Homo sapiens: one gene and its partner. The protein of the gene in region 1 purifies or fractionates together with the protein of each later gene. This does not show direct contact. Each region holds a gene or a part of one and is shown on either strand. Other genes may lie near its edges.

Evidence for each region.
Region 2: the proteins of FGR (region 1) and CAD purify together in Homo sapiens (affinity purification with mass spectrometry; one large-scale study listed by BioGRID and IntAct). This does not show direct contact.

What each region holds. Positions count from the first base shown.
Region 1 is NC_000001.11:27,628,686-27,632,185, forward strand, and holds part of FGR (tyrosine-protein kinase Fgr), read right to left. Parts: intron 1-3,500. UniProt on the Homo sapiens protein: Non-receptor tyrosine-protein kinase that transmits signals from cell surface receptors devoid of kinase activity and contributes to the regulation of immune responses, including neutrophil, monocyte, macrophage and mast cell functions, cytoskeleton remodeling in response to extracellular stimuli, phagocytosis, cell adhesion and migration.
Region 2 is NC_000002.12:27,237,869-27,241,368, reverse strand, and holds part of CAD (multifunctional protein CAD), read right to left. Parts: coding exon 3,487-3,500; intron 3,314-3,486; coding exon 3,182-3,313; intron 2,939-3,181; coding exon 2,737-2,938; intron 2,328-2,736; coding exon 2,137-2,327; intron 2,039-2,136; coding exon 1,898-2,038; intron 1,673-1,897; coding exon 1,571-1,672; intron 1,105-1,570; coding exon 1,008-1,104; intron 803-1,007; coding exon of another isoform or gene 752-802; intron 459-751; coding exon 414-458; intron 312-413; coding exon 142-311; intron 48-141; coding exon 1-47. UniProt on the Homo sapiens protein: Multifunctional protein that encodes the first 3 enzymatic activities of the de novo pyrimidine pathway: carbamoylphosphate synthetase (CPSase; EC 6.3.5.5), aspartate transcarbamylase (ATCase; EC 2.1.3.2) and dihydroorotase (DHOase; EC 3.5.2.3).

The DNA of each region.
Region 1 (3,500 bases):
TATATTGCCACAACATATCTATATCAGATGGAGGGGATCCCTGAATTCTGCATGCCCAGTATGGCTGGAAGGGAGAGACTATCAGCATCTGAGAAGGAAGCTCTGTGGGCTCAGGAAGAGCCCTGGCAGGACTGACCGTGTCGTCAGCAGGCAGAGGTAGGCAGCTCTTGGGTCTTATCACTTCCAAACTTGATGCAGACCAAAGCCCTGGCCAGGCCTGGCTCTCTGGGGACCAGTATGCTGAGGCGTCAGGGGATGTAGGGCACAGGGTATGACATCTGCATGGCCCAAGGCAGGGAGGGGCCACACTGCATGTAGCCATGTTCATGCTGTTTTGTCAGAGGAAAGAAAGAGATGGGGAAAGACAGAAAAAGGAGAGGCAGAAAGAAAGAGAGAGAGAGGCAGAGTTTGAGAGATACAGGGAGATAAAGAGAAAGAGCCAGAGAGACAGAAAGACAGAGAGATAGAAGGAAGAGACAGAGACAGAGAAACACAGCGTGGTATGCTGGTAAACTGACTCTCAAAAAAAGAAAAGAAAAGAAAAGAAAAAGCCCTGATTTGTCACATTTTCTGATTTCCATGGTGTAAATATTCCCACAATGGCTGATTTAAAGCTACCAAAGTGACTTCCTGAAAGCTGGGGTGGAAGAGACACACAGAATGAACTCCCCTGAGCCAGTAAGTAGCTGGCTCCAGCACACACTGCCAGAAAGAAACAGAGACAAAGAGACAGAGGCAGAAATGAGAATTAAGGAGAAAGAGTAATCAAGAGACAGAAAGAGATAGAAACAGAGAGAGGCAGAGATGAAGAGAAAGAGAGAGAGAGAGCTAAAGAGACAAGGAGGGAAAAAGACGGAGGGAGAGCAGATTGGGTTCACTCTGCTCAGACATCTGCATGAAAATAGCCCTAGGACTCTTCATCCTCCTCTTGCTCTGATCTCTATGTGCCACCAATTCTTTGGAGAGTAATTTGACTTCCTAGAAATCCAGGTGGCAGTAAAAATGAGCTAATTTATTAAACAGTTACACAGTGACTAGCATCTTGCCAAGTAACTCCCAGTCATGGTCTTATTTGGTGAACCTATGAGGTGGGTTTATGACTACCCTTATTTTACAGATGAAGAAACTGAGGCACAGAGATGTTAAGTAACTTGCCCAAGATTACATTGTGAGTAAAGGATGCTAAAATGCAATGCTGATCAACTTGTTGCCAAAAACCACTGTAACCACTAGTCCATTCTGTAATCCTAGTAGAAGCAATAATGCAAGCTTGTCCATCCCATGGTCCATGGGCCATATGCAGCCCAGGACAGCTTTGAATGTGGCCCAACACATATTAGTAAACTTTCTGAAAACATTATGAGATTTTTTTTGTGATTTTTTTTGAGACGGGGTCTCACTCTGTTGCCCAGGCTGGAGTAAAGTGGCACAATCTTGGCTCACTGCAACCTCCGCCTCCTGGGTTCAAGTGATTCTTCTGCCTCAGCCTCCTGAGTAGCTGGGACTACAGGCGCGCTGCCAACACGCCTGGCTAATTTTTTGTATTTTGAGTAGAGACGGGGTTTCACCGTGTTAGCCCGGATGGTCTCGATCTCCTGACCTCGTGATCTGCCCGCCTCGGCCTCCCAAAGTGCTGGGATTACAGGCATGAGCCACTGCACCCGGCCTTTTTTGCAATTTTTTAAAGCTCATCAGCTATCATTAGTGTTAGTGTATTTTATGTGTGGCTCAAGACAATTTTTCTTCTTCCAATGCGGCCCAGGGAAGCCAAAAGATTGGACACCCCTGCAATAACGTGTGTCTCTTAAGGAGCACCTAGTGTTCTCAGCCCTGTGCCTCATGCTCTAAATCCTTGATACAGCAGGCAGGGCGCAGGTGGGGGGAGGGAGGGGCGCAGGAGAGAGAGAGAGAGAGCCATATCTGCCCAGATTTTCTCAGGCAGTCGCTGAATCTGAAGAAGCCAGGTCTCTCTTTTCTCAGCACTGAACTTCGCTGCCTGCTAATACCAGAAAGGGGGCAGCTCAGAGAGTAGCCACAGCATCATTCTGGGCACTTGGTTCTGTTTATAAATATGTCTCTTGAACATCTGGTTTACAGGAGTCGCCTCCGAGATCCCCATCAGGGTCAAAATCAGGTTACAAGTATCAAACTGAGGTCCAACCCTGGACCGCAGTGCTCCTCACTTCAACATCTGCCCTGTGGCCCTCCCCAGCTCCATTCTTCAGTAGCTCTATGACCTTGGATCTTTGACATAAGCCTCTGAGCCTTAGTTGTTGCATCTGCACCTTCTGAGTAGTTGTTGTGAGGGCTTCATGACATGTGGCTCTTGCCCGATGTGCAGTGGCCAAGTGTGACCAATAACCAAAACCAGAATGGCCCCCAGGGACCATTTACCACTCCACCTTCTCTTTTGCATAGGGGGAAGTTACTTTCCCAGGATCACACAGCCAGACAAGGGATTCAAAGTCAGGACTATTAATTCAAGTCCAGAGTTCTGTTCCCTCCCCCACTGCTGTGTTCTCCAAAGCCTGAGCAGGAGATCATGCTGTTCCTAACTAGTGAATGTCATACTTCCGGTCGAACACACCACCCCTGTCATATGGCAGCTGGTCACCCAGCAGGGAGGGACCCTGCCTCCCACTCACCCCTACTGCTGGACATAGGAACCCCAGGTCCACCCATCCTTTTTCGAGGCCCACACTTCCCAAAGCTATGCCAGTTCTTTGATGTAGACACAGGATGTCCTGCCCCCGCAACCCTCACCAAGTATCTGTGGGATCTAGAGGCAGATTTAGGCTCAAATTCTAGCCTGCCTGACAACTAGCTTAAGGCATTGGGCAAGTCAGTTCATCTCCCTGAGCGGCAGCATCTTTGCCTATAAAATAAGAATACAAATGTCCACCTCCTGGGGTTGCTTCTCAGCATCAAATGGGGTCACATCACTGAAAGCATCAGACATACAGTAAGTGCCCAGTGAACTTTCACTTCCCTCCTTTCCCTTGAGGAAGGTCCTCCGTGGCAGTGACGGTGTGGGACCAGAGGGTACAGAACTGGGCAGGGCTGAGAAGAAAGAGAAGTTCCCAGGGTGAGGTGAGAGGGCTGAGCTGGCCCAGCCGCCTGGGGGATTTCATCAAAAGGGAACCGGGACTTTGGGCAGGGGCAGGAAACCACCATCCTGCAAGAGTTCCGGCTTCTCCTCCAGGCTCTGGGCTGGCCGGGGGCAGGCCAGGGCTGGAGGGTCAGGGAGCAAGGCTGAGGTCTGCAGGTGACTCCCATCCCACTGTGCCGCATCTCTCACTAGGCCCTATCCCTCAGACCGGGCGGGCTTCCATCCCTCACCCTCAGTCCTCTCACCGAGACCCTCCACCTGGCTGAATGCCAGTGCCTTTGCTGAGGCCCCCACTGCTCATTAACTCCCTTTCTTTCTTTCTTTGTTCTTCTTCTTCTTCTTCTTCTTTTTTTTTTTTTTGAAACAGTGTCTCATTCTGTCGCCAAGGCTG
Region 2 (3,500 bases), on another chromosome or scaffold:
TGCACCATCATACGCAGTGTGTGTGCCACATTGAACAGGTGAGACATCTAAGAAAGAGCCCAAGTTAGCTAGAAAGGTCCTAGCCCCAGCTTTCCAAATCCTCAAAGCTCTGGGTGGTCCCATCCTCCCTGCCCCAGGCACCTGATCCTTGGTGAACTGCTGGACGGACAGGATATGTTGGCCCACTAATGAGTGCAGCAGGGGTGAGGTCTGGGGGTGCAGCAAGCCAGGGGTCCCCAGGTTCTGGGGAGATGCCTGTCTCGGTACTGGTGGTGGAGGGTAGCAGGTGCCATCAGGGGTTCCCATCAGCTCTGCAGTGAGGGATGGGGCAGAAAAGGCTGGTCAGAGGGTTCCTCCTACCAAGGCCAGATCAGAGGTCCCCGAGGTGAGTGTGTGTCAGGGTGGAGTCTCACCTGGCTCGGCTACCTTCCGAGAGGACTTCTCCTTTGGCTCCTCAGCTGCAAACAGGACAAGAGGACAGATATACATTTATGGCTGAGGTTTGGAAAGAAACCCCATATTCCCAGGAACTCTGAATCACAGTGTATATGTTAAACCAATTCACAACACAGTAATATAGCAGGTTAGGGGAGGGCAGGGGACTGCAGCAGCTCTGGGGACAGACAGGTGGCTTCCCATGGGGCTGTGTTGTATGGGAGCAGTGGTGCCCTCCCGGGGCTCTCCCAGTTGGCAAAGGCATCCTAGGCAAGAGGAACGGCCAGACTCACACCAACCAACAACCTGGATTTACCCCACGCTCTGCTGCCCCGTGGGATCCCAGCTCCTGGGCGGAGGAACACAGCTGCCCACAACAAAAAAGGGCATGTGAGAAGCTGTGAGATGTCTACTCACACCGGGGAGACTTGTTTAGGCAAAGGATGGCACGGCAGATCAGACGAGGATAAAGGGATGGAGAGGAGGACATGTAAGTAGAGAAAGGCGAGGCACTGGGAAGAAGTGGATCCTGTCCCTACACAGTCTCTGAGTCACAGGAACCCCACTCTTACCTGGCAAACCTGGGTCGGAGGCTCGATGGATTCGGGGCGGCAGATGGAAGCGGCCATCAGGAAGCCCTGGGATGCCACGGCGGGGTCTTTCAGGTGTCTGGAGGGATAACGTTGGCCCAGAGTTGTTTTTTTTTTTTTCTTTTGAGACGGAGTCTCGTTCTGTCGCTCAGGCTGGAGTGCAGTGGCGTGACCTTCTGGGTTCAAGCAATTCTCCTGCCTCAGCCTCCCAAGTAGCTGGGATTACAGATGTGCACCACCACGCCTGGCTAATTTTTTTATTTTTAGTAGAGATGGGGTTTCACCATGTTGGCTAGGCTGGTCTTAAACTCCTGACCTCAGATGATCCGCCTGCCTTGGCCTCCCAAAGTGCTGGGATTACAAGTGTGAGCCACCACATCTGGCCTGGCCCAGCATTTTAAAAAAATAATTGACCCAACCCCACTTCAAATTCAGTCCCTCAAGAAAACCCCAATTGTTCCTGAACCACCAATGAAAATGTTCAAGCTGTTCATCCTGCCCTGAGACTAACACCTCCCAGCCCCCTAGCCCAGTAGTGTGGATACCGTGGTCATCTCACTAGTGGCAGGGGCTGAGGGTGGGAGCTGAGGAACAGCCCCCTGTGGCCACTTCCGTACATCCTGTCCATAGCCCGGGGGTACCAGAACCTGCAGGCAGAAGGCAGGGCACTCAGGAGGGAGCAGAGAGAACTCAGGTCCTAAAGGGGTAGATGTCAGCAAGGACAAAAAGCACCTTGGGGGAGCTGTGCCCCCAACCCCTGGTCCAGGGCAGTGGTGCACATAGTGGGACAGTGTAGATGTGCTGGGAAGGGAAGAAATGAACGTGGTGCAGAAGAGGGCACTACTGAGATCAGGCAGGGGCTACTTGCGTACCTGCCCATCGATATAGGCAACCTCCCCTCGCAGGACCACACGGCGGACGGTGCCCTTCACTTTCTGCCCTTCAAAAGGTGTCCAGTGGGCCTTGGAGAAGGGCATGTGGCTGGGAATTGTCCACTCATGCTCCAGATCCACCTGCCCAGAGGACATGGGTTATGCTAGGGAAAGGATCCCCAGAGAACATATCCTAGGGCTGGAGAGCCCCCCTCCTGCTCTGGGCCTCATCCCCACACCTCCACATAGGTGTCCTCCTGCGGGGGCAGGTGAAAGATGCGCCGAGGATTGTGGTGCAATCGCTGCAGCAGGTCGTCCAGGCTGAGCCGGCCCTCGCTTACAGCCGTCAGGAGTAGTGGCAGCATGGTCTCTAACCCTGGGAACCCAGGTGGGGGCCTGGACCCACACTTCTCCTCCAAGGTATGGGGAGCTGGGAGAAAGAAAGCCATTACCCTCAGGACCAATCACCTCCATGTCTAGGAAGTCACTCACACCCCAGGACTGCACTTCCAACAACCTCCTTATGCTCACTACCACTCCCAATGCTCATTTTTTCTGGGAACTAGAAACAAGGGCAACAGGACTGCTGCCATCTTCTGGAGCCCACACTTTTACCCATGTATTCTTTCACTTGCAGTTCTACTCACTGGCTCATTCATTCTTTCAACAAGTATTTATCAGGCACCTATCACAGACCAGGTACCCTAGAGGCTAGGGTCCCATACGGATCAAGACCCTGTCCTAGTAGAGTCCTGAGGCCTGGCCTGCTTCCCATTTTCTTGCTAGGGCTGTCCCACAAGCCCCACTGGGCAGAGGAGGTACATGCTGGATTCTCTCACCATGGTCTGAGGCAAAGCAGTCGATGACAGCCATGTTCTCCCACAGGGCTTCCACATCCTGGCGGGAGCCAAGCTCAGGCCGGACCTCCCCCTTCCCAGGCCCCAGGCGCTCCAGGTCATCATGGCTTAGGAACAGGTGGTGGGGAGCCACCTCGCAGGTCACTGGCAAGCCCCGTGCCTTTGCAGCTTTAATTAGCAGGATCTGGGGAACAATGGGAAGATCCAGAAGAGGCACCACCCATATGCCTTGCCCTACACAAAGTCCCAATGGCCAACATCCCTGCTCAAAAAATGATGATGTAGACCTGCAAGGGTGCTGGCTCGAGACCCTCCTCCTGCTGTCTCCAGACTCTCCTCCTGCTGTCTCCTGCCCCTAAGGACTACCCTGACCTTTGGTGTTACTGGGAAAGCAACAGGGACAGCAGGATCTCAGGTGTACTCTTACCTCCTCCTTCCGTGCCACGTGACATATGTGCACTGAGCGCTGAGTGAGCTGAGCCACCATGAGGACAGCAGCCACGGTTTGCTGCTCTGCGTGAGCCACAATGGGGAGGTGGGAGGGCCATGTCTCGAAATGCTGGGAGCAGAAAGAACTGATGAAGGAGTGTGCAGAATCTCTGACTGTGCTCATCAGAGCCCAGAGTCCCCAGGAGCTCCCCTGAATCCTCACTGCTACCAGCCCACTTAGGCAGGGGCCCACAAGCCAGGAGACACTGGGTGGTGGCCTCCTGCCACATGCACACTCCCTACCTCCATCCACTGGA